Linked DNA regions of Homo sapiens. The protein of the gene in region 4 interacts with the protein of the main gene of each other region in a pairwise test. Each region holds a gene or a part of one and is shown on either strand. Other genes may lie near its edges.

The links.
Region 1: the proteins of LHX4 (region 4) and QRICH1 interact in binary tests that used the Homo sapiens proteins (3 or more experiments, as listed by UniProt).
Region 2: the proteins of LHX4 (region 4) and DHRS1 interact in binary tests that used the Homo sapiens proteins (3 or more experiments, as listed by UniProt).
Region 3: the proteins of LHX4 (region 4) and DCAF10 interact in binary tests that used the Homo sapiens proteins (3 or more experiments, as listed by UniProt).
Region 5: the proteins of LHX4 (region 4) and MRS2 interact in binary tests that used the Homo sapiens proteins (3 or more experiments, as listed by UniProt).
Region 6: the proteins of LHX4 (region 4) and SNRPA interact in binary tests that used the Homo sapiens proteins (3 or more experiments, as listed by UniProt).
Region 7: the proteins of LHX4 (region 4) and TSTD2 interact in binary tests that used the Homo sapiens proteins (3 or more experiments, as listed by UniProt).

The regions. Positions count from the first base shown.
Region 1 is NC_000003.12:49,086,867-49,091,385, forward strand, and holds part of QRICH1 (transcriptional regulator QRICH1), read right to left. Parts: intron 1-4,519. UniProt on the Homo sapiens protein: Transcriptional regulator that acts as a mediator of the integrated stress response (ISR) through transcriptional control of protein homeostasis under conditions of ER stress.
Region 2 is NC_000014.9:24,289,348-24,293,708, forward strand, and holds the end of DHRS1 (dehydrogenase/reductase SDR family member 1), read right to left. Parts: intron 3,438-4,361; coding exon 3,305-3,437; intron 3,254-3,304; exon of another isoform or gene 2,984-3,253; coding exon 2,837-2,983; exon of another isoform or gene 2,692-2,836; intron 2,279-2,691; coding exon 2,209-2,278; intron 1,873-2,208; coding exon 1,792-1,872; intron 1,649-1,791; coding exon 1,512-1,648; 3' UTR 1,251-1,511; downstream 1-1,250. UniProt on the Homo sapiens protein: NADPH-dependent oxidoreductase which catalyzes the reduction of steroids (estrone, androstene-3,17-dione and cortisone) as well as prostaglandin E1, isatin and xenobiotics in vitro. May have a role in steroid and/or xenobiotic metabolism.
Region 3 is NC_000009.12:37,806,948-37,811,466, forward strand, and holds part of DCAF10 (DDB1- and CUL4-associated factor 10), read left to right. Parts: intron 1-4,519. UniProt on the Homo sapiens protein: May function as a substrate receptor for CUL4-DDB1 E3 ubiquitin-protein ligase complex.
Region 4 is NC_000001.11:180,232,905-180,237,423, forward strand, and holds part of LHX4 (LIM/homeobox protein Lhx4), read left to right. Parts: intron 1-4,519. UniProt on the Homo sapiens protein: May play a critical role in the development of respiratory control mechanisms and in the normal growth and maturation of the lung. Binds preferentially to methylated DNA.
Region 5 is NC_000006.12:24,415,651-24,420,169, forward strand, and holds part of MRS2 (magnesium transporter MRS2 homolog, mitochondrial isoform b precursor), read left to right. Parts: intron 1-746; coding exon 747-863; intron 864-2,433; coding exon 2,434-2,586; intron 2,587-2,810; coding exon 2,811-2,928; intron 2,929-4,519. UniProt on the Homo sapiens protein: Magnesium transporter that mediates the influx of magnesium into the mitochondrial matrix and regulates magnesium metabolism. Also permeable to calcium, sodium and potassium ions.
Region 6 is NC_000019.10:40,760,184-40,763,545, forward strand, and holds part of SNRPA (U1 small nuclear ribonucleoprotein A), read left to right. Parts: intron 1-2,717; coding exon 2,718-2,891; intron 2,892-3,362. UniProt on the Homo sapiens protein: Component of the spliceosomal U1 snRNP, which is essential for recognition of the pre-mRNA 5' splice-site and the subsequent assembly of the spliceosome. U1 snRNP is the first snRNP to interact with pre-mRNA.
Region 7 is NC_000009.12:97,608,938-97,613,456, reverse strand, and holds part of TSTD2 (thiosulfate sulfurtransferase/rhodanese-like domain-containing protein 2), read left to right. Parts: intron 1-1,757; coding exon 1,758-1,883; intron 1,884-3,005; coding exon 3,006-3,111; intron 3,112-4,519.

The DNA.
Region 1 (4,519 bases), on a different chromosome or scaffold from region 4:
TGCCTCAGAACCTTACCTCTTCCTTGGGCTTTGAGGCCCCTCAAGGTTCACATCTACTCCAACAATGGCTCTTCATAGCTTAGTCCAGTTTGAATACATTCATATGGGGCCCGGTGCAGTGGCTCACGCCTGTAATCCCCAGCACTTTGGGAGGCTGAGGTGGGCGGATCACCTGAGGTTGGGAGTTCAAGACCAGTCTGGCCAACGTGGTGAAATCCCATCTCTACCAAAAACACAAAAATTAGCCAGGCGTGGTGGTGGGCACCTGTAACCTCAGCTACTCGGGAGGCTGAGGCAGGAGAATCACTTGCACCCAGCAGCCGGAGGTTGCAGTGAGCCGAGATCGCGCCACTGCACTCCAGCCCGGGCAACAAGAGCAAAACTCTGTCTCAAAAAAATAAAATAAAATAGGCCAGGCACAGTGGCTCACGCCTATAATCCCAGCAGTTTGGGAGGCTGAGGCAGGCAGATCACAAGGAGTTTGAGACCAGCCTAGCTAATATGGTGAAACCCTGTCTCTACTAAAAATACAAAAATTAGCCAGGTGTGGTGCCTGTAGTCCCAGCTACTAGGGAAGCTGAGGCAGGAGAATTACTTGAACCCGGGAGGCGAAGGTTGCAGTGAGCCACGATCGCACCACTGCACTCCAGCCTGGGCAACAGAGCAAGACTCCATCTCAAAAAATAATAAGAAAAATAAATTTAAAAAAAATAAAAATAAAAAAATAGGCCAGGTGCAGTGGCTCATGCCTGTAATCCTAGCACGCTGGAAGGCCGAGTCGGGCATATCACGAGGTCAGGAGTTCAAGACCAGCCTGGCCAACATGGTGAAACCCCATCTCTACTAAAAATACAAAAATTAGCCAGGCGGGGTACCATGCGCCTGTAGTCCCAGCTACTCGGGAGGCTGAGGCAGAAGAATTGCTTGAACTCAGGAGGCGGAGGTTCATCTCAAAAAAAAAAAAAAAAAAAAAGAACAATGTCTTCTATGCTTCTTTGAAATAACTCCATATGTTTATAAGACAGACATGACTCCTTAAAATGGAAATTGATTTTTTTTCCATGTGAATATATTCATTTTATTTCATTTATTTTTTTTTTTTTGAGACAGAGTCTCACTCTGTCACCCAGGCTGGAATGCAGTGGCACAATCTCGGCTCACTGCAAGCTCTGTCTCCCGGGTTCACGCCAGTCTCCTGCCTCAGCCTCCCAAGTAGCTGGGACCACAGGCGCCCGCCACCACATCCAGCTAATTTTTTTGTATTTTTTAGTAGAGAGAAAGTTTCACCGTGCTAGCCAGGATGCTCTCGATCTCCTGACCTCATGATCTGCCCGCCTCGGCCTCCCAAAGTGGTGGGATTACAGGCGTGAGCCACCGTGCCCGACCAGAATTGACGTATTTCTATTCTTTTGCCTGGGTTTTGTTTCTTTGTATTTTTATTTTTTTGAGACGAAGTCTCGTTTTCTCACCCAGGATGGAGTGCAATGGCATCATCTCGGCTCAATGCAACCTCCGTTTCCCAGGTTCAAGTGGTTCTCCTGCCTCAAGCCTCCCTAGTAGCTTGAACTACAGGCGCACGCCACCCAGCCCAGCTAATTTTTTTGTATTTTTAGTAGAATCGGGGTTTCACCATATTGGCCAGGCTGTTCTCGAACTCCTGACCTCAGGTGAGGAGTTCATTTCCACGGCCCCCCTCGACCTCCCAAAGTGCTGGGATTACATGCCTGAGCCACTGCACCAGGCTTTTGTCTGTTTTTTTTTTTTTTTTTTTTTTAATGAGACAAGGTCTTGCTCCACTACCCAGGATAAAATGCAGTGGTGCATTCATAGATCCCTGCAGCCTCACACTCCTGGGCTCAAACAATCCTCCTGCCTCTGCCTCCCGAGTAGCTGGGACTACAGGTCCATGCTACCACATCCAGCTATTTTTATTTTTCTGTAGAAATGGGGTCTTGCCATCTTGCCCAGGCTGGTCTCCAACTCCGGGGCTCAAGCAATCCTCCCACCTTGGCCTCCCAAACTGCTGGGATTACAGGCATGAGGCACTGTGTTCCACCCATATTTCGATTTTTAAGGATACTAGCCAACTGCAGGGTTTGTGATAGAAGTTATCCCATTAGGCCATTTATATGCCCCATGCCAGAGGAGTCCCTGGTTTAGGGGCATTTTCATCACGGTTCTATTTTCTTTTTTTCTTTTCTTTTTTTTTTTTTAAATGGAGTCTCGCTCTGTCCCCCAGCTTGGAGTGCAATGGTGCCCTCTCAGTTCACTGCAACCTCCGCCTACAGGTTCAAGCGATTCTCCTGCCTCATCTTCCCGAGTAGTTGGGATTACAGGCGCCCATCACCATGCCCTGCTAATTTTTGTATTTTTAGTAGAGACGGGATTTCACCATGTTGGCCAGGCTGGTCTGGAACTCCTGACCTTAGGTGATCCGCCCGCATTGGCCTCCTAAAGTAATGGGATTACAGGCATGAGCCACTGCACCCGGCCATGGTTCTATTTTCAATCAGGAAACTAAAATTTGTATTTTTCCCAAATATTGACGGATTGTAAACTGGCACAACCACTTGCATTATCTAGTGAAGCTGAAAATATCCATTCCACGAACCTGAGCAATTTTACCCATCAGTATATATGAAGGAACTTTTTTTTAAACAAGGGTACTTAATACAAGAATGTTCACAGCAGCATTGTTAAGAGCCAAAAGCTGGAAGCAACCCAGATATCTATCAATAGTGGAATAGATAAATACCTTATGGTGTATTCATACAACAGAATACTACATAAAAAATGGAAATGAACAGCTGCACACAATGTGAACAAATTTCAGAAACATTATGCTAAGACAACATAATACAGCATGACTCCATTTATACAAAACTCATAAGGAAACAAATCTAAACTAGGTTAAGGGCTACGGAGATGGTAAATGTAAAAAGAAGAAGAATGTTATCACAGAATAACAGCTGTCTGTACGGCTTGAGAAGCTGTGATCAGGAAGGGACCCACGAAGGGTTCAGAGATACTGGCATCGTTTTATTTCTTGAAAAAGTAGTACTTTCGCCAGCATTTACTTTATAATTTGTCATTAAATTGTACAGAGATCGCCTAAATTTACATGGATGGATAAATATTTCACAAATTTTAAAACAAAGAAAAACATGGGCGGGCGCAGTGGCTCACGCCTGTAATCTCAGCACTTTGGGAGGCCAAGGTAGGCAGACCACGAGGTCAGGAGTTCAAGACCAGCCTGACCAACATAGTGAAACTCCGTCTCTACTACAAATACAAAAAATTAGCCAGACATCAGCCGGGCACAGTGGCTCACGCCTGTAATCCCAGCACTGTGGGAGGCCGAGGCGGGCGGATCACGAGGTCAGGAGATCAAGACCATGCTGGCTAACACGGTGAAACCCCGTCTCTACTAAAACTACAAAAAATTAGCCGGGCATGGTGGCAGGCACCTGCAGTCCCAGCTACTCGGGAGGCTGAGGCAGGAGAATGGCGTGAACCCAGAAGGTGGAGCTTGCAGTGAGCCGAGATCGTGCCACTGCACTCCAGCCTGGGCAGCAGAGCGAGACTACGTCTCAAAAAAAAAAAAAAAAAAAATTAGCCCAGCGTGGTGGCGGGCACCTGTAATTCCAGCTACTCCAGAGGCTGAGGCAGGAGAATTGCTTGAACCCGGAAGGTGGAGGTTGCAGTGAGCCGAAATCGTGCTACTGCACTCCAGCCTGGGCGACAAGAGTGAAACTCCATCTCAAAAAAAAAAAAAAAAGAGAAAAGAGAAAAAGAGAAAAATATTAGCCTTCTGACACAGCCACCATTTCTACCTACAGTTTTGCCCTGGCCTGAAGAGTGAGACCAAAGGAGCACTCCTTCCCTCTTTCAGCAAAGGAAGAAATTAATCTACCATTTCTTCATGCAGCCACATCAATTTAATAACAGAAATCACAATCTAATGTAATAACTAGGAAAAAATACAAAGGAAGCATTTAAGTGAAGTCTGAAGAGGACTTAAAACATCTGGAACAAAATGCAGTACAACAGAATAACAGAAAAGAACAGGTAATAGGCCAGGCGCGGTGGCTCACGCCTGTAATCCCAGCACTTTGGGAGGCCAAGGTGGGAGGATCCCGAGGTCAGGAGATTGAGACCATCCTGGCTAACAGAGTAAAACCCCGTTTCTACTAAAAAATACAAAAAATGAGACAGGCATGGTGGCGGGAGCCTGCAGTCCCAGCTACTCCGGAGGCTGAGGCAGGAGAATGGCGTGAACCCAGGAGGCAGAGGTTGCAGTGAGCCAAGATTGCACCACAGCACTCCAGCCCGGGCAACAGAGCGAGACTCCGTCTCAAAAAATAATAATAAAAATAAAAAGAAAAGAACAGGTATTCATGTAACACCTAATTCTAAGGCTAATTCAGAAATCAGAGACCCTTACAGATCAAGAGTGGCCATTTAAAAAGCAGACAAGAAAGAAATATGGCACATGAAGTATAAACCACAACTAATTAAA
Region 2 (4,361 bases), on a different chromosome or scaffold from region 4:
AACTTCTGGGCTCAAGCGATCCACCTTCCTCAACCTCCCAAGGACTGAGATTACAGGTGTAAACTACTACGCCCAGCCCCATTGGTGGATTTTAATGATGGCTGTGGAAGGCTGGAGGTGGTCCTGAGGCCCATCTTCTTTTTATACCACATAGGCAACTGCCTGTGCTCCTCATCAACCTCAGGAGATAACAGGAATTTAGGCTGGTAAGTGGAAGAGGGTGAGCAGGTGCTGAGGGAATCTGATCACTGTGATCTGCTGCCACAGCAAATGGTGGCATTTAGGCACACAGTTCCAAAGGTTCTATACCAGTCACGTACTGATAAGCCAGCCCTCTCTCTAAAAGAAAGCTTTGATTGGTAGCATTTGTGGACTTTCATGGGACATGTACTGTCGCCATGGCTGATTCAAGACACCACATGAAATCACTGAATGAGGACTTAGAAGAGATGTGCATCAGAAGCTCTCAGAAGCTGGTGAGCCACTCCACTTACCACTGGAACAGTAACTGGGGACGGTCCCCAGAAAGCCACAGGAAGACTTCTGCCAATCTTGTGGGCAGCCTGGGGAAGCCTCAGCTCTCACTCTGAAGATTTTGAATAAGTAAAATGATTTATGTTTCTCTGATTTATGGCAGCCATCCCATCACTTTGGATGGTTATCTAGGCTGTCCGGTGGAAGGTTCCCTCAGAATAGCCCTTGGCTCCTCTTAGGAACACACCCCATTGCCTTGCCTCAGGCTAGGACAGCCTCTTGCATAGGCAAGGCAGCTCTATAGGGCTCATGCAATTAGTTCTGCAGAAAGCAATTCAGGTAGAACCATCCCGAGAGGAAGGATGAGAGTTGTCGGTGTCACAGCTATTCCTCTGTCCCTCACTTGGATTCAGGCAGTACCTTCTCCCCAAGTTCCAGGAAATCATGAACACCAAGGAATCTGCCTTTGCTGGACTGGGCCTCAGCCAGAGATCAGGCCCAGCTAGAAGGTAGCAGGCATCCCTGAAGAGATGGTGGAATGGGGGTGGAAAACCAGTGTGAGACTGGATGTGCCCACTTCTAGCTGTGGAGCGACTCTGCTCCTCAGCTGGGGCATGGGAAACAGGTCTTGCAGGGCAGAGCAGGAACAGTTCTGGAGGAAAGGGGTCTTGTCCTGGGGCAGAACCCCTTGAGAAGCTTCACATTTATACATCTTTGAGTCTTTCTCCCAAATTGTTAACATGTTGCTGAGCAGAGAATCAGCAGTCAAAAACACATTGAAAGAGAAATGAGACTTTTATTAGCTCCAAGAGCATTTTTCAATACTAAGGCAAAAAGTAAAAAGAAGGACAAGGAAAACCAAGGCACAAAGAAGGGACCTAGGCGCACCCCAGAACTCACCACGGACACACAGCAGAGGGCTTCTCTTCATATCAAGGGTATGGGTAAACAAGAAAGGCTGCTGTTTCACTGAGACAGGACGAACCACCAAGTCCAAATGAGAAGACAAGCAGAGACGTAGTGTCAGACCAGGAGGGTTAGAACTTGCTAGTGTAGAGGGCAATAATCCACTTGGGCACACGGAGGAAGGAGGGCAGGTAGGAGGCCAGCCAGCCCAGGCCGGACACGTGTGAGAGAACAGAGCTCAAAGACAAATAGTCTTGGACGGGGCGGCCTGGGAACAACAGGAGGAGGAGGATTAGATTCTCATTTCCCACTCCTCAGATACCCTCACCTTGGCTGGAGAGACCGAGGGAGGAGTGGGCAGGGAACAGAGGGAACAGCAGTCAAGGCTGACTGCTGTGCCAGGGTCCTCACCGTCCACATCCCGAAGGCCATAGCGTCGAGCAAGGTCACAGGATGGCAGCACCTTACCACTCAGGCTCAGGATATTGGGATCTGCGGGCACACAGACAGGTGGAGATGGCAGGCAGGGGAGTATGCAGAGTGACAAGGTTTGGGCCCAGTTGGACAGGGCACTGCTGAGAGCCCTGGAGCTCAGGATCCCTGGAGAGCTCTTTCTCTTGGGCCTTGGACTTTTTCCACACTTCCCAGGAGCCTGCTCCTAAGGCTCTCAGACCTCAAACTGGGAATGCTGACCCCTTGGGCCTCAAAAAGCAGAGAAAAGAATGACATGTTCCTCAACCAACTCCCGAGCCAGATCTGGGCACTGGATGCTACCGCACTACACATCCTCCATGCCCTTTCTTATTACCAGCTGCCCCCAAACTTCACCTGTTGCCAAAGCCACCACACATTTGCCACTCAATTCTGTGGTTTCCGCAGATGAGAAGGCTGATTTGAACTGAAACACAGGGGCAGAGAAGTGAAGGGTTAATTTCCAAGAGCACTGCCCAGGTCTCCTCCCCATTTCAACTTCTGTTCCAGGAGAAAAAGACCAAAGACCAAAGAGGCCAAAGACCTCAAGCAGGGCCTGTAGGACCCAAAGTATTGGCAGGTGCCAGAGCCACTCCTCCCCACATCCAGGTGAGCCCTGTGCCCTGGCACCAGGATCTGCTGTCTTTGCTAAGTGGAAGGATCTGGTAGTGCCAAATAGTGTTTGGACCTTCTAAGCTAGCTGGTGTGGGGGTCAAGTGCATGGTCTTTGGAGCTAGACAGCCTTTCCACTTAGGACATATGTGACCTTCAACAAGTTTCTAAACCTCTCTGGGTTTCAGTTTTGCCATCTGTAGAATGGAGCTGGTATCTCCCTTACAGGATTAAAGGAAATAATGTGTGTCCCATGCTCAGCCCTGCACCTGCCACAGTAAGCACCTGGTGAGTGGGAGTATCTGATCTTGTTATTGAGGATGCAGAGGCCGACTCCCCTGTTCTCTGCTTCCTTCGCCCTCCCCTTGCCAACCTGCTTCAACACAGGATCCTGCAGGACCTCCTCCTTTGCCATATGCTCCTTCAGCAGTTCTGTCTGCACAATCCCCGGCCACAGAGACACACAGCTGACCCCATGGCGCCGCAGCTCGTGGGCACAGTCAGCAGCCAGCTTGTCACACTGTGGAGAGGCGGAAGGCAGGGTAAGAGCCACCTAGCCATGTCACTTTCCTGCCCTGCCCTCTCTGCTTCTACTGTGAATGCTCCACCCACCCTGTCCTTCCCAGGAGCCCCAAGGTCTCAGCTGCCCACGCTCCCCAGTGTGATGCCTACTCTAGCCAACCAAGAGGAGCACAAGCAAAGGAACTGTCCATGGATGAGGCAGAGGAGGAGCTGAGAGGAGCCAGCCTTACCATTCTGACCACTGGGGATTGTACCTCCTGAGCTATAGGTAACATCACTGTCTTTTACCTCCTCAGCTCCTATGCCACTGGGTCCTCACCGCAGCTTTGCCCACACCATAGGGGACATTGAACATATACTGCAGGCTTCCTGGGGAGGAGATGACCACGATGAGCCCCTGGCCAGCTGGTACCATCAGCCGTGCCCCATACACTGAGCAAAAGTAGTGGCCTCTAGAAGGTGGGGCAAGGGAAGAAGGAATGAACCGTGTTAGTGCTGGCCTGGGTGCCACAGCCTCTGGCGGCTTCCCCTGCCTTCTGGTGGTTGTTGTCCACTAGGAAGGCTACACAGGGTGGGTTAGCGACCTGAGGAATTAGGGGCTTGAGGCCATATTCTGAGAGGAAAACTGGTCAAAATAACCACTGACAGATGAGAAACAGCAATCTTTGGAAGAAGAAATGGAACGCAAGAGCCCTGTCACAATAACAATTACAAACAAAATTGTTCAGGGGGAGAAAACTTAAGAAATGTATAGTGTCTACATAGAAAAACTATAAAACCATGACAATAAGTACAGACAAAATCTTTCAAAGCTAAGAACTGACATGTAAATCATCATTTCTATGTAAATCAATCCATAGATTCAGTCAAATTGGATTATAGCTCAATAAGACCTTTTGGAGGAATTGATAAAATAATCTAAAGCTCAATGAGAAGAATAAACGTGAGAACAGCCAGAAAAGCTGGGCACGGTGGCTCACGCCTGCAATCCCAGCACTTTGGGAGGCGAGGGGGGCAGATCACTTGAGCTCAGGAGTTTGAGACCAGCCTGGCCAACGTGGTGAAAGCCCATCTGTACTAAAAATACAAAAATTAGCCAGGTGTGGTGGTACGTGCCTATAGTCCCAGCTACTCGGGAGCCTGAGGCAGGAGGATCTCTTGAGCCCAGGAGGCGGAGGTTGCAGTAAGCTGAGATTGTGCCACTGCACTCTAGCCTGGCTGACAGAGTGAGATTGTCTCAAAAATAAATAAATAAATAAAAAGAAAGAGAACAGCCAGGAAAATTCCGAAAAAAGGACTAAAAAGACTAATGTCTTGTGGGTGAGGGGGATTGCTTTCCCTACCCCTGCTGTCACCCATATTAAAATGCACAGGGG
Region 3 (4,519 bases), on a different chromosome or scaffold from region 4:
CTGCTGTGTTACGTTACCTCTCACCTGGACTGAGGGATTAGGTTTAATATAATTAAGTATATCAATAAATTATTTTTGTGACTTAGTTATTAATATATTTAAACAAATATTGACTATATGAAACTAACAGCAAGCATTTGAAGGGCTAAAAACATTTTAAAATATACTTACTGTTACTTCAGCAAAAGCCAAAAAGAGGATTCAGCTCCCATGAACAATTCTGTTGATGTTAAGAGTGATTTCTTTTTTTTAGGCCAGGTATGGCAGCTCATGCCTATAATCCTAGCACTTTGGGAGGCTGAAGGTGGAGGATTGCTTGAGCTCGAGTTCAAGACCAGCTGGGGCAACATAGGGAGACCTTGTCTCTACAAAAAATTTTAAAAAGTGTGATTTTTTTTAACGTATCATGACTACAAGTTATTTAATGACTATAAATTTAATGTGGACATTCTTAGAAGGGCTTTATCTAGTTTCCTATGTCAATTCATGGTTCAGACAAGGGCATCTGTGTCAAATAAAAGATTATGGCTACAATTTCCAAAAATTAATAAATGATTGAAAATTACTAGAATGATTTAATGAACAATTTGAGCTACAATGGTTATCACCTGGTGAGCATTTTTATAATCTATATAGGTTAATTTATTTAGAAAATGTTTTTAAATTTTATTTATGTTAATTTATATTACCACTGAATTTTCTTTTCTTTTCTTTTTTTTTTTTTTTTTTTTTGAGACAGAGTTTCACTCTTGTTGTCCAGGCTGGACTGCAATGGCGCGATCTTGCCTGAATGCAACCTCCAGCTCCCAGGTTCAAGCAATTCTCCTGCCTCAGCCTCCCAAGTAGCCGGGATTACAGGCATGCACCACCACGCTCGGCTAATTTTGTATTTTTAGTAGAGATGAGGTTTCACCATGTTAGTCAGGCTGGTCTTGAACTCCTGACCTCAGGTGATCCACCCACCTCAGCCTCCCAAAGAGCTGGGATTATAAGTGTGAACCACTGTGCCTGGCCTGAATTTTTAACCTCTTTGAATATCACACTTAACTGTATGTAACAGCCGCTTCATCCTTATATTTTTCAAACACACAAGGAACAGTTATAAAATTTTCACATATGAGACCACAAGTTTCAAAAGATTGGTATCATACCGAATACAGTTTCTCACCACAATGTGATCACTAGAAGTAAATAAAAAGATAACTAGCTGGCATGGTGGTTCATACCTGTGATCCCAACACTTTGGGAGGCTGAGGCAGGTGGATCACTTGAGCCTGGGAGTTCCAGACCATCCTTACAAAAAATACAAAAATTAGCCAGTTGTGGGGCTCATGCCTATAGTCCTAGCTACTCAGGAGGCTGAGGTGGGAGGATCACTTGAACCCCGGAAGCAGAGGTTGCAGTGAGCCAAAATCGCGCCACTGCACTCCAGCCTGGGCGACAGCCTGGGCGACAGAATGAGACCCTGTCTCAAGAAAAATATATATATTATATTATGTAAAAGTATATTATATATAATATAAAATATATATTTATATAATATATAAATATATAAAACATATATTTATATAATATATTATATAAATATATAATATATGTAATATATAAAATATATAATACATAATATATAATATAAAATATATTTATATAATATAATATAAAAATATAATATATTTATATAATATAATATAAAAATATATAATATAAAATATAAATATATTATATAATATAAAATATAAATATATATTTATATATTTATATTTATATATAAAATTTATATATAAAAATATATAAAAATACATACATAAAATATATATTTATATAATATATATTATATATTTTATATTTTTGGAAGTCAAGAGACAAGTATAATTAAAAAGATAACCAGAGACCTGGCACAGTGGGTCACACTTGTAATCCCAGCACTTTGGAAAACTGAGGTGGGAGGATCTGGCAGGAGTTCAAGACCAGCCTGGGCAAGGAAGAAAGACTGTCTACAAAAATTTAAAAATTAGCCTGGTGTGGTGGCATGTGCCTGTGGTCCTAGCTACCCAGGAAGGTGAGGCAGGAGGACTGCTTGAGCTTCAGAGTTTGAGGTTGCCACTGCATTCTAGCCTGGGTGACAGAATGAGACTCTGTCTCAAAGAAAAAAAAAAAAAAAGATAACTAGAAAAGTCTCATTCATTTTCAAAAAGAATTGATAAATTCATGGGTCAAAGGGGAAATTATAATGGAAATTAGAAATGTTCAGAACTAAATGATAATGAAATCATATGTCTCAAAACTTGTGGGATACAAGTAAAGCTGTACTTAGTAGGAAAATTATAGTCTTTAATAAACTGATAAGGAAAATTAATGAGCTAAGTATTCATCTCATGAAAGAGAATAGCAAAGTTATCTGCAAATAATAGGAAAATCAATCTAAAGAGAGCAGAAGGAAATATAGTAAAAAAAAAAAAAAGGTAGAAATTAGTGAAATTTTAAAAACCATCAGAAATACTGAATAGGGACAAAGTTTTGTCTTTGAAAACACTTATAAAAATGAAAAACATCCATGGTACTAAGAAAATGCACAGATAATATTCAGAATAAAAAGAGGGACATAGGTCGGCACAGTGGCTCACACCTGTAATCCTAGCACTTTGGGAGGCCGAGGCGGGTGGATCACCTGAGGTCAGGAGTTCGAGACCAGCCTGGCTAACAGGCGAAGCCCTGACTCTACTCAAAATAAAAAAATTAGCCAGGCATGGTGGTGGGCGCCTATAATCCCGGCTACTCCGGAGGCTGAGGCAGGAGAATCGCTTGAACCCGAGGGGCGGAGGTTGCAGTGAGCCAAGACTGTGCCACTTCACTCCAGCCTGGGCAAAAGAGCGAAACTCTGTCTCAAATTAAAAAAATAAAAGGGTTAGGGGGAGCGGGGCGGCCGTGCGCGGTGGCTCACGCCTGTAATCCCAGCATTTTGGGAGGCCAAGGCGGCTGGATCACCTGAGGTCAGGAGTTTGAGACCAGCCTGGCTAACATGGTGAAACCCCATCTCTACTAAAAATACAAAAAAGTAGCTGGGCATGGTGGCAAACGCCTGTAATCCCAGCCACTCAGGAGGCTGAGACAGGAGAATCACTTGAACCTGGGAGGCGGAGGTTGCAGTGAGCTGAGATTGCGCCACTGCACTCCAGCCTGGGCAACGAGAGCGAAACTCCATCTTAAAAAAAAAAAAAAGTTGGGGGGACAATTTTATATGCAAGAGGTAGATTGTTTGGACCAAACTTCCAACTGAGAATAATCAGAAAAGCTAGAGAAAATATTAAATATTTAATGTAAGATATAGAAAGCTTATGTGTGAGGGGATTAGAGCATTATCAGGGAAATGAAGAAATTGCAGGGTCAAGTTCTAAAAAATAGGAAAGCCAGTGATGTGAGCCCAGCATTTGAGCTCGCTTCTCTGAGAGACATCTGTCAATCTCAAAAGCAGCAGCAGCAATGAGGCTGAATGGTATTTCTTTCTTTCTTTCTTTCTTTTTTTTTTTGAGACAGAGTTTCATTCACTGTTGTTGCCCAGGCTGGAGCGCAATGGCGCAATCTTGGCTCATTGCAACCTCTGCCTCCCGGGTTCAAGCGATTCTCCTGCCTCAGTCTCTGGATTAGCTAGGATTATAGGCGCCTGCCACCACGCCCGGCTAATTTTTGTATTTTTAGTAGAAACGGGCTTTCTCCATGTTGGTCAGGCTGGTCTCGACCTCCTGACCTCAGGTGATCTGTCTGCCTCGGCCTCCCAAAGTGCTGGGATTACAGGCTTGAGCCACTGCGCCTGGCCTCTGAATGGTATTTCTAATGGACTCATGGGTGGGATAGATGAGATTACAAGAATTGCAATTTAGGATCCGCAATTTAGGTTTGGGATTGAAACTCCCCTCCCCTCACCCAGTATACCCTAGGACTAAAGGTGAATCCAGAATCGACAGTACTCATGGGGACTAAAGGCCAGCTTCAAATAATCTCATTCCCTACGTAGATTAAGAAGACCTCAGATTGCCGGCACCTCTACTCTAGCTTACTTGCCATAATTAAAGATGAATCTTCTATGGAAGAAGAAAATATGCAGCTGAGTGCCGTGGCTTACACCTTTAATCCAAGTTCTTTGGGAGGCTGAGGAGGGAAGATTAATTGAGGCCAGGAGTTGGAGACCAGTCTGAGCAACATAGTGAGAGATCCCATATCTGCAAAAAATCTAAAAATTAGCTGGGCAAGGTGGTGTGCGCCTGCCATACTAGCTACTCTGGAGGCTGAGGTGGGAGGATTGTTTAAGCCCAGGCGTTTGAGGTTACAGTGAGCTATAATCACATCACTACACTTCAGCCTGGGTGACCAAGCAAGACCCTGTCTCTAAAGAAATTTTTTTAAAAATATAATATATCATCCAGTGCTTTAAATTATCCCTATAATTTTTGTATACAGTGACGAGCACTAGTACAAAGAGATTCGTTGTCTGAAAAACCAAGAAAATCAGCAAACAATAGAA
Region 4 (4,519 bases):
GGAGACAAAAGAAACGCTCTCCCACAGGGGTCCCTCCAGTCGCCAACTAGAAGGGTTTCCCTCTCAACACAGACATGTTTGCCTCTTCATCACATGGAGTCACCACGAATGGAGCACTTGGGGACGCAGGTCTAGGTGTCCCCAAGCTCGGTGCCTCTAGTGCCCTCCCCTCTAGGGGCATTTTAGAAGAAGTGATTTAAATCCAGCTTATTTCGGCGGCAGCTGGACTATTCCTTTGCTTATTTGGGGATGGGTGAGGGGCATACCCTTTAGGAAAACGTTTCCAAATGATGTAATAATTTCTCTCTCATCTCTGGTCTTGCTCCAGACTTGGCCTCTTCCTCGCCACTCTGTCCCGGCCTCCCGCCCCCGCAGGCTCCCGTGCGGACTTAGCAGTTCGCGCCGTAGCCCTCCTGGTTTTTTACCGCGCCTTGGTCGCGCGGCCCCCGGTGCGGGCCTCGTCGCTCCGACAGCCCTACAGCTGTCCCTACGGCCCGCACCGACAGCTCGTCCCCGCCACCTCCCTCCGGGCTGTAGGGACGTCGAGATCCGAATCCTCACAGCGCCTGACCCGGGGCCGTGTTGGGTACGGGTACGGCGAGAGCCTTCCGAGCCGCCTCCAAAACTCTCCCCGCGGACCTCAGCAGTCCCTCCACGCGTCGGGGCCCTGCTGGCCGGCCATGCCCTCTGAGGAGACGCGGAAAAGAGCGAGGCATATAGGAAGGTGGGGCGTTTTATCCGCCTCGGTTTTGACCCATCTGCCATGTAGTCTCCCCAGGCACCGAGGGAAAGGACGACGGAAGCCCGCCGCCCGGATCGCTGGCGGGAGAGAGGGCAGCCCGCACGGGAGAAGGAGGAGCCCCGCGGGGTCTCCGCTGGGGGTGGTAATTGGAATGCAGGCCTGGGGGTCTCTGTCCCCCTCCTTGTCTCCTAAAATGCTTCCGGCAAGCTCTGGCGAACCCCGAAGCTGTAGGAAAAAGGTATTTTATTTTGTGTTTGGTAGGGTCGGGGTAAAGGTTTTCCCTGGGACTTCCTCTCCTGGGGCTCCTCCGGGGTGCGTGGGGTAATGTCCCAGCGCAGGTCGAGTTGCAGATCCGAGTCCCCGGGGTTGTTGACTGTCCTTCTTGCAGGACATTTCTTAAGGGGGTGAGATGGATTCACTGTCCAAGACAGGAGTTCACTCAAACGCTGGTGCTGTTCGCTCTTCTTTCCATTCCTGCCTTGTCTCCTAGTGCGAGAAACAGACACACACAACACACACAAATTATATATATATATATATATATATATATATATATATATATATATATATATATAATAGATTGAGATTCTATCATATTCCGAACATTCCGATATAGCAGCTGTAGGCACCATAGACCTCCCTCCCTGCGTCGCGAGAATATATTCTCAGGCAGGAGACAATTTTTACAGATGAGGTCAGCTGTCCCCGCCGGCCGATTCGGGCCTGATGGGTTGGGGGTTCCGATGTCCTAACTGCTAGGATCCCGTTCCAGCCCCTGGCCAGAGCTGTGTACCACAAAGAAGGGAGTTTGGAGAAACCCGGGTAAGCGCGGCAGCGCCCCGCTTGGGACAGCGGATGGCTGAGGACTCCCAAGGGGCGAGAGGGCTCCGGCCTCCTCCTTTCCAGGGCCTTGTTATCTGAGAGGGCCGTTAGCACGGAGGGAAGCTTGGAAAGCCGCTGTCCCAGTGCGCTCCGCATGCGGAATTAACTGTTAAAGCCGGACACGGAGCACGCAGGTGCAGCAGGTGAGGGGCAAAGGTCTGCATTGAGCAGTCCGCAGTGTCCCGGGAAGTCGTAAAGTCGGGACTGAGAAGAAGCAGGACCTAACTCAAGTTTATTTCCTCTCTTGGCCGAGGTCCGGGCTCGTGGAAAACCAGAGCTAGGCGGGGCTACGCAGGGCTGAGCAGGAGTGGCGTCCTAGGGTCTGGGAGCGCGACCCACATGACCTCGCTACGACCGGGGCAGGGCTCCTCCGCCCCGCGGGCAGATGCCGGCCTGGGTGGCCCGGGGAACAGACGATGAATTCTTTAAATGAGCGTTTGCTGCGCACCCATGGGCGGCTCACGATCCTGGGCACTCGCCCGGGAATCCCGGGCGTGCTCTGGGTTTTGGGGGACTCGCCGGTGGAGGTAGATGTGGACAGGGCGGCCGGCCCTTCGCGGGTAGCCGGCTTTGCGCTTACTGCGTCCCGCAGCGGTGGGTAAAGGTCGTAGCCCAGAAGGGGACAAGGGAGGGACCGCCTCTCTCTCCCCGGTGCGCTGCAATAGAGGTTCCTGCGCCTTGGCCCTTGCAGTCCATCCGCCCAGAGGTTCGCGCCCGTTTTCGGAGCTTATTATCTCAGGTAGCCCAGAGGTCCGACTGAGCTGGAATTAGCCAGGCCTGGGACCCCTTTGCTGCCCTTTAGAGTGGTGGCAGGGACTTTTCCAGCAAGGATAGGCGCGGCAGGCGCGAGTGCGGACGGCGCGCCCATTAGGAGGAGGCCGGGTGAAAACCTCTCTTCCTCTCCAGACCCATTTCGTTCCAAGCATTTGGAATGACAAAATTAAACCCCAACCCTGGCGGCTCGAGTCTAATGTGACTGTTTAACCCTGGGAAAGCGATGCTCCCATTTTCGAAGGGGCTCCTCCTCTTCGGAGCGGGGAGGCCGCCGGCGGGTGTGCCCGGCCCGCGCGTTCTGCGGGTGTTCGAGCCTCGGCTCCCCACTCGGTTCCGCAGCTTAGTGGACCTTGACGAGCGCTGGAAACGTGTCAGGCTCCAGAGAGACAGAGTCTCTACCTAGGCGGCTGAGGATGTCAATTAAAATCGACCAGGGAAGGGAGTTGGCGGCACTGTGCGCCGCCGGGGAAGGCGAGGTGGCGCGGGCCACCGGGTGCACTCACCGCACGAGAGGCCGCGGCTGGACTGGGACCGAGCGCATCCCTGTGTCTCAGGGGGTTTGCTTTGTGCAGGATGGGACCTTATTATTTTTAGACAGTGGGGCAAACGTGTCTTTTAAAGAGATCCGAAGGGTGAAACTAATGAAAAAGGAAATGAATTACTAGAAAAGCCGTGAAGGGATAAAACCGGGAGCAGCAGGAAGTTGAAGGAAGGACGACCGAAGCTAGGTGTATCTGCACCTGCCTCTTGACACGCCAAAAACAAAGGGGGGTTAAGGCAAGAATGTAGACTAAATGCTGTGAGGATTAGGGTAACGCGAGCCCTCAAGACGTCTCGGAGACCGCCTACAGGGCTGCAAATACCAGGGTCCATTTTTAAAAATCGAGTGCTCCTAGAGGTGGGGTGGGGGTGGGAGAGCCGGGAAACCAGCAAAGCAATTTCTTTCCATTGAGTAGACAAAAACTTGGGCCACAGGGGCATCTTGTATTTTGAACAGTGACCCGATGACCCCGCTGGCCAGGTGTAGACAGCCTCAAGTCCTAAATATTTGCATTGTCCTAACTTCCCAGTTGCCTCGGATTTTAATGCCCTTTCACTCTGCGTTACAGTCAATTAGTGATTACTTAGCATCCACATTAGTAGACTGAAGCCAGAGACCCCAGTGCTGGGAGGAGAGGAGGAGCCGGGGGAAGGAGGATGGGGCTTGCAGTCCTGCAGGGATGGAAAATTAGTTAACAGGAATTAACTGTTCTTTCTATTACCTTGTTATGAAATCTGCTTTGAGCTTCTTGTTTTGGACGGGAATGGTGGGTATTTAGTGGATTTCTCTGGCTGGGAAACTTGTGTCCTCTTCCTATTGAAGAGTTGTGGATGGGGGGCGGGTAGGTGGAATCGGATAAAGGGACCTTGTGCCTTTTCTTTCAATTAAGGAAATTTTTCAGGAATAGAGCTGAGGAGCTTTGGGACGCATAGGGACTTGGAACCAGTTTAGCTGAAGAGAGGACAAAAGGAGTAATATTACCCACTTTGAGAAACCCACGGTTGGAGACAGACTGAAGCAGCAGTTTGCTGTGGCAGCACCAAATACATGGCTGCATAGACGGCTGAATTTGGAGAGGGCTGGCTGGGGTGCCGTTGAGGCGATTTTACTTTTGTAACAATGTTTTGCCTTTCTCCCTTCCTGGAATGAGTGTTAACAATGCCCATAACAGAGATGTGGGCAAATAGGGTCCACTGCTTTTAGTAAAATTCCATCGCGGTCTGGTGGCTTGAATTTCTCTTTCTTCCTCCCTCCTTCTCCTTCCCCTGTTCCCCCAATTTCTTCTGTCTATCCCTTCCTTCCTTTGCAAAATCTTTGCAGGGAGAAACATGGGATAGTGCAGGAATTCACGACACAGGGGTTTTACTCGGCGGGGGGGGCGGGGAGGAGGGCGGTCGTGTGTCCAGCAGGCTGCACCGTGGTGGAGCCATCTCTCTTTCTAGGCGCCCTGGGAGGGAAGCACAGGTGCTGGGTATAGGACAGAAGCCGCCCTGGAGCTGGGCTCTTATTGTCTGTGGTAGGAAGAAATCAACTAAAATTAGATGCCACTGTGAGGTTTTACCTTATTTAGTCCTCAATTT
Region 5 (4,519 bases), on a different chromosome or scaffold from region 4:
AATGTTGGAGTGTTTTTATCAGTTAAGAGTAACTAGTCTGTTCTATATTATCACTGCCATGTTGATTAATAAAATTCCCAAACCAAAAATCTTAAATTCACAAGCGATTTATGTTTCTGAGATAAGTAATGTATGATGAAATTTATATCACTGATAATTTTACCAATTAATTTAGATCTGGTTTGGGTTTTTTGTGGGTGTTTTTGAGACAGGGTTTCACTCCGTTGCCCAGGCTGGAGTGCAGTGGTGCAGTCTCAGCTCACTGCAGCCTTGGTTTGGGTTTTTTGTGGGTGTTTTTGAGACGGGGTTTCACTCCGTTGCCCAGGCTGGAGTGCAGTGGTGCAGTCTCAGCTCACTGCAGCCTTAACCTTCAGCAATCCTCCCACCTCCACCACCCAAGTAGCTGGGACTGCAGGCACATGCCACCATGCCCAGCTAATTTTCTAAATTTTTTTGTAGAGACAAGATCTCACTGTTGTCCAGGAGGGTCTCAAACTCCTGAGCTCAAGCAATCCTCCTGCCTTGGCCTCCTAAAGTGCTAGGATTACAGGCGTGACACCATGCCTGGCCAAATTGATTCTTAATTTGCCTGGTAAATACTCAACTTTTTTTTTTTTTTTAAATAAGTCATTGTTTAGCATGAATGTATAAGATAATATATTTGATAAGATACTCTAAAAACACTATTATGAAATGTTCTTATAAGTTTATTCTATTGATCATTTTTGTGTATCTATTTCTTATAGTCTATCAGAGTTAGAAACAGATATTAAAATTTTCAAAGAGTCAATTTTGGAGATCTTGGATGAGGAAGAGTTGCTAGAAGAGCTCTGTGTATCAAAATGGAGTGACCCACAAGTCTTGTAAGTATATAATTATACTTTGTTATTTATTTCCTTAGAGTAAATCTTTTGCCTTTTCCACTTCAAGGTGATTTTTCATACAGAATGTAACATTTTTCTGGACTACAGAATATAGAGATTTTTCATCCCCAGTTTCCCTTTTTTCCTGTGCAGTATCGTATCTAATTCAATGTAATTCTATGAGTATGCATACTGCATACCCAACACTGCTGACATGTGGTGAATATAAACACACAGTTACCTTTATATTCAAGGGACTGACCACCAGATTGGCATATACATCTACCAAAATAACTTACCTAGGAAGCAGAGTGGGAGAGAAATTTACATGGGGGAGGGAAAAGATGGGGTAAATACACGAGTAACACATTAACATGGATTATGTAAGTTCAGTCTAATGAAAATGTTAATCTTATAAACCTTTTATCTTTTATGAATTTAGAAATTGTTTATGCTTCTTGTGCACACTCCAGCTAAATGTTTACTTTTAAATACCCAAATATTTTGTTATTGTCTTTCTAGAGCAGTATCAGAAATTAATACACCTTTGTAATGAGTTTAGTTTCCACAGTCTGTACAGATTTTCTTACAGCACTTTGAAAAATTGGTTATTTATATCCTGATAAGGAAATAATAAGATAAAGGGGGCTATATAACATTTGGTAGATAGCCGATAGGTATGGTAGCAGAAACTGTTTGCTTTGCTTAGGCCAATCTGTCAATCTGTCTCTAATATGCTTTATGATACAGGTACCTCTTCAGAGTACTTCATTCCCCCTTACCCTTCTTGGTAGGGTAGGGGAGCAAAGTTATTACTGATATCATTCAAAAACATTTTCTTTATATGAAATCACATTATGTACACACCTCAAAAGGAAATGGTCTTGACATTTTTAGTTGTGGATTTTGTTTTACCTGATAGTGGTATTGGCTTTGCACTAATTCATCTGCATTCACATATCTGGATTTTCCTGTAACTGGCAGCATGTATCTGCATAAAAATCTCTTGGATTGGGGCCATGTAATACAGTGACACCAACTGGTCTACATAAGGATGGAACCTCTGTCCTCAACTCATCTGTAAAGTGTTTTGGATCAGTTGACATAGGTACTCACAGATTGGCCACAACAATAGAAAAGACAAAGGCAGCCAGGCGCTGTGGCTCATGCCTGTAATCCCAGCACTTTGGGAAGCCGAGGCAGGCAGATCACAAGGTCAGGAGTTCGAGACCAGCCTGTCCAATATGGTGAAACCCCATCTCTACTAAAAATACAAAAATTAGCTGGGCGTGGTGGCGGGCACCTGTAGTCCCAGCTACTGGGGAGGCTGAAGCAGGAGAACAGCTTGAACCTGGGAGGCAGAGGTTGCAGTGAGCCGAGATCGCGCCACTACACTCCAGCCTGGGAGCAGAGTGAAACTCCATCTCAAAAAAAAAAAAAGACAAGACAAGACAAAGGCTAGCTTTTCCACTGGTAGCTGAATGCTATATACTAATTTAGGAAGTTTTTGTCACTAAGTATATGATACACATGTTGGGAGTATGTTAATTATTTTCTCTTTTAATTGAAGTGAAAAGAGCAGTGCTGGGATTGACCATGCAGAAGAGATGGAGTTGCTGTTGGAAAACTACTACCGATTGGCTGACGATCTCTCCAATGCAGCTCGTGAGCTTAGGGTGCTGATTGATGATTCACAAAGTATTATTTTCATTAATCTGGACAGGTAAGAAAGCATTATATAAAACTAAGTTTTTTTAATAAAATAATTATAAGAAAGTTTTTAAGGAAATATTTTGTGAGGAATTACGCCATCATTATCATCTATACTACATTATTATTATTTTTTTTGTTGTGTAGGTTTCATCCATGTGGTCTGTATAGATTTGATGAATGTGCTGTATATAGTTAGTGGGCCCTTCTAATCTGAATAGGTGTTCTCCTCTCCAGCCACCGAAACGTGATGATGAGGTTGAATCTACAGCTGACCATGGGAACCTTCTCTCTTTCGCTCTTTGGACTAATGGGAGTTGCTTTTGGAATGAATTTGGAATCTTCCCTTGAAGAGGTGAGAATGTATTATTATTTCTAAAACTTGGGGGTTTTGGCCGGGCATGGTGGCTCATGTCAGTAATCCTAGCACTTTAGGAGGCTGAGGCAGGTGGATCACCTGAGGTCAGGAGTTTGAGACCAACCTGGCCAACATGGCGAAACCCTGTCTCTACTAAAAATACAAAAATTAGACAGGCACGGTGGCAGGCACCTGTAATCCCAGCTACTTGGGAGGCTGAGGCAGGAGAATCACTTGAACCCGGGAGGCGGAGGTTGCAGTGAGCTGAGATCGCGCCGTTGCACTCCAGCCTGGGAGACAGAGTGAGACTCTGTCTCCAAAAAAAAAGATTGGGTTTTGAAGATCGATATTTTTAATGGATTTAAAAAATAAAGGCTGGGCACCTTGGCTCAACGCCTGTAATCCCAGCACTTTGGGAGGCTGAGGCAGGTAGATCACGAGGTCAGGAGATCGAGGCCATCCTGGCTAACCCGGTGAAACCCTGTCTCTACTAAAAATACAAAAAATTAGCCGGGCGTGGTGGCAGACGCCTGTAGTCCCAGCTACTCCGGAGGCTGAGGCAGGAGAATGGCATGAACCTGGGAGGCGGAGCTTGCAGTGAGCCAGGATCACACCACTGCACTCCAGCCTGGGCGACAGGACAGAGTGAGACTCTGTCTCAAAAAATAAATAAATAAAAAGTCTAACCTGTAAACTACCATGGTGAAATAAAATATATAATGTAACTCACAATTCAGGCAGTACTGTTGGACCATGTTATAACCTAGATAAATACAGCCTAGGTTACTTTGTTTCCCAAAACATATAATTACAGATGGGAAAGGTGTGATAAAACAGTGTCTCTGTGAAGCAGTGTTAATGAAGAGTTTTTATTTTTTAATTCTTACATGTCTGGCAACGTACCAGGCGGTTTGCATACTTTATTTGGCTCAATCATTGCAACTCTGAAAATAGATATATTATCCCTACTTTGTAGATGAGAAGACTGAGGCTCAGAACATTTAACTTGCCCACAGGCATAGAGCTGGAAAAATAACAGAATTAGGACATGACCCCAAAGACTTGCACTTTCTACTGCTCTGTTGCCTTTCTGTATTAAGATAATACTTAACTCCCAGAGTTTTTCATTTCACTGTGGTTTTGTACAGTCATCCCTCAGTATCCAAGAAGAATTGGTTACAGGATCCCCACAGATACCAAAGTCTGTGGGTATTCAAGTCTCTGATATAAAATGACCCAGTACAGTCAACCTTGCATATCTGCAGATACAGAACCCACTGACTGTGTTTTCACAGAATAGCTTATTGTAAGTTTTCTAGAACTGAACCTGGATGTGCATCTGGCACAGTGTGATGCTGGATTCTGTGTCCTCATTAGTCTAACGAGTCTACTCTGTTGCCCACATCACCTCCCATTAGGACCACTATGCCCTTTTAAAAAGTGGTCTTTATAAGATGTAAGTATTATGACACCCTTCTGCATACAACTATTCAATGGCTTTTGATTAGCCTTAGGATAAAAATCCCGTCCTGCCGCACCGACTTGTCCATCTTGTGGGTAGCCACTTGTTACTACCTCTCTCAGTGTC
Region 6 (3,362 bases), on a different chromosome or scaffold from region 4:
AGCTAACTTTTGCATTTTTTGTAGAGACGGGGCTTAGCCATATCACCCAGGCTAGTCTCAAACTCACTGTCTCAGCCTCCCAAAGTGCTAGGATTACATGCATGAGCCACCATGGCTGGCCCCCAGTTTTATTTTTATATGCCAGTAACAGACCAGTAGACTTCACATTGAAAAGTAGCACTGAGGGGTAAATCCAACAAAAGGTTTGCAGAACGACTACACTGAAATCACAGAATGTAGCTGGGAGAAATCAGAGACTCAGCAATGGATAGGAAGACTCAGTATTGTCAAGAGGTCAGTTCCATCCAAATTAATTGAAGATTCAACGTGATTGCAATCAAAATCCCACCAGGAATTTCGGTAAACACTGGACACTGATTGGCTCTTTCTAAATGTGTGGAAAGACAAGGCCAAGCCAGGCGAGGAGAATAAAGCACCAGGACCTGCATGACCAGGGGAAGCTCCAGCAACCAGGCCAGGCCCAATGGCTCATGCCTGTAATCCCAGCACTTTGGGAGGCCAAGATAGGAGGATTGCTTTAGGTCAGGAGTTCAAGACCAGCCTCTATAAAATAGCAAGACCTCATCTCTACAAAAAATAAAATAGAAAACTGGGCGTGGTGACTCATTCCTGTAGTCCCAGCTGCTCAGGAGGCTGAGCTGGGAGGATCGCTTGAGAACTGGAGGTCAAGGCTGCAGTGAACAGTGGTTTTGTCACTGCACTCCAGCCTGGGTAACAGAGTGAGACCTTGTCTCTTTTTTGTTTTGTTTTGTTTTCTTTTGTTTTTTTTCGGGAGGGAGTCTCAGTCAATCTGTCTCCCCAGGCTGGAATGCAGTCGTGCAATCTCGGCTCACTGCAACCTCTGCCTCTCAAGTTCAAGTGATCTTCTGCCTCAGCCTCCCAAGTAGCTGGATCACAGGCACATGCCACCACGTCCATGTGCAAAAAAAAAAAAAAAACCTGCAGCAACCAACCAGGATGATATACAGTTGGCAGAAGGGTAGGAAGACAGACCAAGGGGACAGGATGAAGAGTCTAGGTACAGCTACACTTGTATAATTACTTGATGTGTGATCGAGGTACCACTGCACTTCACTGAGGAAAGGACTTTTTTTCCCCTAGTTCATGATGCGGGGCAGTTGGGTATCTGCAAGGGGAAAAAATTAGCCCTACCTCATACTATATGCAAAATATAACTTGAAGTGAATTGCAGATCCAAATGTGACAACTCACAAAATATAGTTTCTTTTCTCTTTTCTTTTCTTTTTCTTTTTCTTTTTTTTTTTTTTTTTTTTTTTTTTGAGACAGAGCCTCGCTCTGTAGTCCAGGCTGGAGTGCAGTGGTGTGATCTCAGCTCTCTGCAACCTGCGCTTCCTGGGTTCAAGCGAGTCTCCTGCCCCTGCCTCCCGAGGATCTGGGACTACAGGCATGTGCCACCACACCCAGCTAATTTTTGTATTTTTAGTAGAGATGGGGTTTCACCATGTTGGCCAGGCTGGTCTCGAACTCCTGACCTCAAGTGATCCGCCCTCCTCACCCTCCCGAAGTGCTGGGATTACAAGCGTGAGCCACTGCACCCGGCCCTCACACAATAAAGTTTCTAGAAGAAAACAGGAAAATGTCTAAATGACCTTGGTGAGGGCATGAAAAGTGGAAACATCCTGTTTTCCAAACAGGATACAAAAAGCACCGAGTACAAAAGAAAAGATGGATGAACCAGGCCCACTCCTTAGGTCTCTGAGCCTCCGTGTCTCTCTGGCTTTCATGAGTCTCATGGCTCTGACTGGGTCATGCTCTATTCGGTGCCACTCACACTTTCTCCAAGTTGGTGATGGTGTCTGGATTACTGTGGGCTCCTGTTAACCTCTCTCCTCTTCCCTGCACCTAGTTTTCTGTCCACTTTGGACTTCAGATTGTGATTCCAGCCCCTGAGTGTGCTGCCTGCCATCTGTTGTCTTCCCTCTTCCCCTTGCTGCCACGCGTTTTGTTCTGCACCTGCCCTGAGTGTCCCTTTCCATCACTGCCCTCCTTTGTTTTTGTTTTTGTTTTTTGAGACAGAGACTTACTCTGTTGCCCAGGCTGGAGTGCAGTGGTGTGATCTCGGCTCACTCCAACCTTCTGTTGCCGGGTTCAAGTGATTCTCCTGCCTCAGCCACTCTAGTAGCCGGGATTACAGGTGCCCACCACCACGCCTGGCTAATATTTGTATTTTTGGTAGGGGCGGGGTTTCACCATGTTGCCCAGGCTGGTCTCAAACTCCTAACCTCAGGCGATCCGCCTGCCTCGGCCTCCCAAAGTGTTAGGATTATAGGCGTGAGCCATCGTGCCCGGCCTACCACACATTTCTTTCTGCACCTGCCCTGACTGTCCCTTTCCATCTCTTCCTCTCCTTTGATTTTGTTTAAGAGACAGGGTCTTGCTCTGCCTCCCAGGCTGGAGTGCTGTGGCACAATCAGAGCTCACTGCATGCAGTCTTGACCTCCTGTGCTCAAGTGATCCTCCTACCTCAGCCTCACAAATAGCATTTAACTCTTTCTGATTTAATGTCCCACTAGACCCTGGGTTTGTTTTGCTCTGTCGGGCCCTCTTTGGGTGCCTTTTGCGCCTCTTTCTGGGTGTTTTTCCTTACATCTCTCACCCGCTAGGTTTCCTTTCATGGCCTCTTCTCTGCCTCCTGGGGCTGCTGTAACCACGCACTCTCCTCCCTCTCTCCACAGGGCATGCCGCCGATGACTCAGGCGCCCCGCATTATGCACCACATGCCGGGCCAGCCGCCCTACATGCCGCCCCCTGGTATGATCCCCCCGCCAGGCCTTGCACCTGGCCAGATCCCACCAGGGGCCATGCCCCCGCAGCAGCTTATGCCAGGACAGATGCCCCCTGCCCAGCCTGTGAGTATCTAGTCCCACCCACCAGGTCTCATATAAATAGTGAGAATACAGGACTAGAAAGGGACCAGTTGGGGGGCTGCTGTAGGTTGGGTGGTCTGGGCAGGCCCCCTGAGGAGGTGGTACTGAATGAGGAAGTAGCAGTGGGGGTGGGCCCTGGGCAGAGGAATTGGCATGCTGGTTGGAGGGTACGGAAGGTTAGGGTAGGCTGGAGTGGTGCCAGCACCTAGATTGATTCCATGAGCTATTGAGCGCCTCCTTACGTGCCAGGCCCCGTTCTGCACTGTAGGGCTGCAGCAGGGACTGAGATAGAAACCTCTGCTGTCCTGTGGCCTATAGTCTGTAGGGGCAAAGAGGTGGGAGGCAGACAGGCAACAGACAACAATATGTGGTATGTTGGGTGGAAGTACCAGAGTGAATTCAAGCAGGGTGAGGGATGGAGGAAGTGGCAGTACTATGGGTCTCCCACTGGAC
Region 7 (4,519 bases), on a different chromosome or scaffold from region 4:
GGACTTGAGATGCCAAAGAGCCCCAGATATGGATGCATATTCATTTATTCAACAAATCGTATTGAGTGCCTACTATGTGGCAGGCACTGTTCTAGGGGATATGCTGGTGAGCAAAACAGACACACACCCATGTGGAACTTGTATTCCAGTGGATGGTTTGCAGTGGTAGGCTGTCCTCCAAACACCATGCAGAGATACATGCTCATGTATACCCTCAGCCCTCAGATGTACTCTGTGCTTTAGGATTTTGGTAGTATCTCCTCAGCAGTTCTTTTCATTTCTGGTGCTCTTTAGTTCCCTTTTTATTCATATAAAGAAATTAAGATTCAGAGAAGTCAATTAACTTTCTCACAGCTACATGCAAGTGAGTGGCAGAGCTTAATCTTGAGCCTAGATCTGCTGACCTCTGTGGAGGACTCTGTTAAGCTACCTGGATTTAGATTAAGCTCAGAATTCACTTCTTTGGCTGTTGGACTATTGTAGCTCCATAGCAAATGGGGCTTTCCAGGAGTTTTATTCACATTCTTTTGTTCAGCATGCATGAAACAGAATACCTCATCTGAACTGAAGGCTATGCCATTTTAGAAAAATACAAGTATCCAGCTGGGCACGGTGGCTTGTGCCTGTAATCCCAGCACTTTGGGAGGCCAAGGCGGGTAGATCACTTGAGGCCAGGAGTTGGAGACCAGCCTGGCCAACATGGCGAAACCCCGTCTCTACTAAAAATACGAACATTAGCTGGGCTTGGTGGCGCATGCCTGTAATCCCAGCTACTCAGGAGGCTGAGGTAGGAGAATCGCTTGAACCCAGGAGGTGGAGGCTGCAGTGAGCCGAGATTGTGCTATTGCACTCCAGCCTGGGCAACAGAGCAAGACTCTGTCTTAAAAAACAAACAGGTATCCATCTCACACCTGTCAGAATGGCTGTTATTAAAAAGTCAAAAAATAACAGATGCTGGTGAGGTTGTAGAGAAAAAGGAATACTTATACACTATAGGTGGGAGTGTAAATTAGCTCAACCGTTGTGGAAGACAATGTGGTAATTCCTCAAAGACCTAAAGACAGAACTATCATTCGACCCAGCAATCCCATTACTGGGTATGTACCCAAAAGAATATAAATTGTTCTGTTATAAAGACACATGTATGCATATGTTCATTGCAGCACTGTTCACAGTAGCAAAGACATGGAATCAACCTAATGCCCATCAGTGATAAACTGGATAAAGAAAATGTGGGAATACTATGCAGCTATAAAAAAGAACAAGATCATGTCTTTTGCAGGGACATGGATGGAGCTGGGAGCCATTATCCTTAGCAAACTAACGCAGGAAGAGAAAACCAAATACTACATATTTTCACTTATAAGTGGGAGCTAAATTATGAGAACGTGGACACATAGAGGGGAACAACAGACACTGGGGCCTTTTGGAGGGTGGAGGGTGGAAGGAGGGAGAGGATCAGGAGCATAACTAAGGGGTACTAAGCTTAATACCTGGGTGGTGAAATAATCTGCACAATAAACCCCCATGACACAGTTTTACCTGCAGAGCAAACCTGCACTTGTATCCCTGGACTTAAAAGTTTAAAATAAAAAAGAAAAACACAGATATCTTTGTCCAGTAACACTTTGGTGTCCTCATCAGCGTCTCTGCTTTTCCTGTTAAACTCATTGACACACATGAGCCTATTGTTCTTCCCTGGAAAGATAACCAAGCTAAGAACAATCTGTTCTCTTTTTCACCGTCTTGTGTCTCAGATTCGAATTGCTGCAGAAGGAATCAATGGGACAGTTGGTGGAAGCAAATTGGCTACCAGACTTTATGTGGAAGTCATGCTTTCCTTCCCATTGTTTAAGGATGACCTGTGTAAAGATGATTTTAAGGTAAGAGAAAATGAAAATTAAATGGATCTAGAGCCATCTGCTTCTGCCTCTGTGCATGTTATTGAAGAGGAGTTCAAAGTAGAGAAATAAGCAGTGCCAAATAAATACCCTTTCCCCTTTATTTTTTGGGGCTTGGGGAGTTTTTTTGTTTTGTTTTTTGACAGGGTCTTGCTCTGTCACCCAGGCTGGAGTGCAGTGGCGTGATCATGGCTCACTGCAGCCTCAACCTCCCTGGGCTCAGGTGATCCTCCCAGGTAGCTAGGACCATAGGCGTGCATCACCATGTCTGGCTAATTTTTTTGTAGAGACGGGGTCTCACTATGTTGCCCAGGCTGGTATGGAACTCTTGGGTTCAAGCAGTCCTCCCACGTCAGCCTCCTATAGTGCTGAGATATGGACGTGAGATACCGCACCTGCCCCCTTTCCCCTTTAAATGTGCTTTTCTCTTTAGGTTACGAGACAGTACAATAGAAGGAGTATGCTCGTCCCCATTCTTTCACTGAGTCACCATATGATTTTGGACCAGCTAGTGCTCTAGACCTCAGTATCCCTTCTTATAAAATAAGAATGTTACAGCTCATGCAATCTGGGACTCCAAATCTTGGACATATTAGCTCACTTGAGAGACCACCAGCCTGGTCAGCAGATCACTGTGTTTTTAGTAAATCTGGAATTGTAAGATTAACACTTCATACCACATGGGGGAATAAAGTTGTTGCTCTCACAGGTGGGCTGCTTTGTTTGAGTGACTTTATACCTTGTCATAATAAGTGATAAGGTGATGGGAAATGCCTTGCTAGCGTTCATGCTGGCAATGATAGGAAAAGAATGAAAACCGGGTATAGTCACATGTTAGAATTGCTCAGCGGTGTTGCAGTTTTATAATTAAATGCTTACACCTAAAGAAACACTTTTTCAGCTTAACATTCCTGCACATGGCAGGTATGCAGTAAGTATTTATCAATGTTGAATTATCTGGAACATTCTGGGCCCTAACTAGAGGTTTTTTAAGACTTCAGCTATTGTTATTACAAAACAGACCATCATTCTTATATTGGCACTTGTCTTATACCTGGAGATGGGACAGCAAGACTGTATTCTGTTTTGTTTCTCATTGGCTAGACCAGCAAAGGAGGAGCTCACTGTTTTCCAGAATTGCGTGTTGGTGTATTTGAAGAAATCGTGCCCATGGGGATCAGCCCCAAAAAGATCTCCTACAAGAAGCCTGGTATGCTTGCTTTTAGAAGATTGTGCTTTAATTCACAGGGACAAAACTTAATAGACAAATAAGAAAGCTAGGCACTGTGATCAGCAGCAGTCATGAGTCCTCTCTAAAGCAGCTGTGGGGTGGCTAACACTTGGCTGCATCCAGTGCTTATACTGTTTCTCTGTGGTGCTGTGGGGTTGAAGACTCACCTCTTCGAGTGACCTATCTTATTCCTCTTGGTGATGGTTTATCAATTAGTTGTTTGCTCTTTCCAAAGACAGCAAGCAGTTTGGGAAGAGTGTAATTATTACTTGTAAACAGTTCATTAGCAGAATAGAGCAAATAGGCCTTTTGCTACAGGAAACAAGTTGCTTTCAACACCACAGCAGTTTTCACTGTGCTCTAGAATGTTCTTTCCCCATCTTCTCCATGGTAAATGGTTGAAAGACATTTGTTTGGCAGGTTTTTGGGGGTTTTATTGTAGTTTTTACTATGAAAAATTTTAAACATTAAAAAAGTAGAGAAAATAATATAGTGAAGTTCTATGTACCTATCATGCAGCTTTAGCAGTTAACTGATTAATGGCCAGCTCTCACCTATACCCCATCCCTTCTCCCATCTTGGATTATTTTGAAAGCAACCCCAATGTCAGGCCATTTCATTTGTAAATATTTTTAGTAGGTATGTCTAAAAGATAAAAATTTGTTTTAAAAGATGCAAAACGATATCACATCTTAAAACATTTTAACTGATTCCTTAATAAATTATCAAATATCTAGTTGGTTTAGTCACTCAATTCCCGGTTGTCTCATACTTTTTAAGCTTCATTTCTATTAGGATTTAAATAAGGTTCATTCACTGTGATTCATCAGTATGTCTCTTTAAGTGTCTTTCAACCTATAGATTTGTTTCCATCTTTTTTTCCCCCCTTGCAGTTTATTTTTGAAGGAACTGGATCATTTGACCTTTAGAGTTTCCCATAATCTGGACAATAATAATTGTATTCCCAAGATATATTTCTCTGTCCTCTTTATTTCCTATAAGTTGATCATTAGATTTAGAGTAGTGCTAATAGAAGTATAATGTGAGCTACACAATTTTACATTTTCTAGTAGCCATGTCTTTAAAAGTAAAAAATAGATGAGATTAATTTAAATAATATGGTTTTCTTAATGCAGTATATCAAAAATATTATTTCAACATGTAATCAATATAAAAAATTATTAGTTTACTTTTTTTCATGCTAAGTCCTTGAGATTCAGTATGTATGTCACCCCTATTATAGCACAAGTGCTTGTCAGCCACATGTGGCTAGTAGCTACTGTATTAACAACCAGGACTAGAGACTTGATCAGATTCCAATTTGATTTCTTTTTCTCCCGCCACCAAGACTACATAAGCACTGTTGTCTTCTTTGATCAGGAAGCAC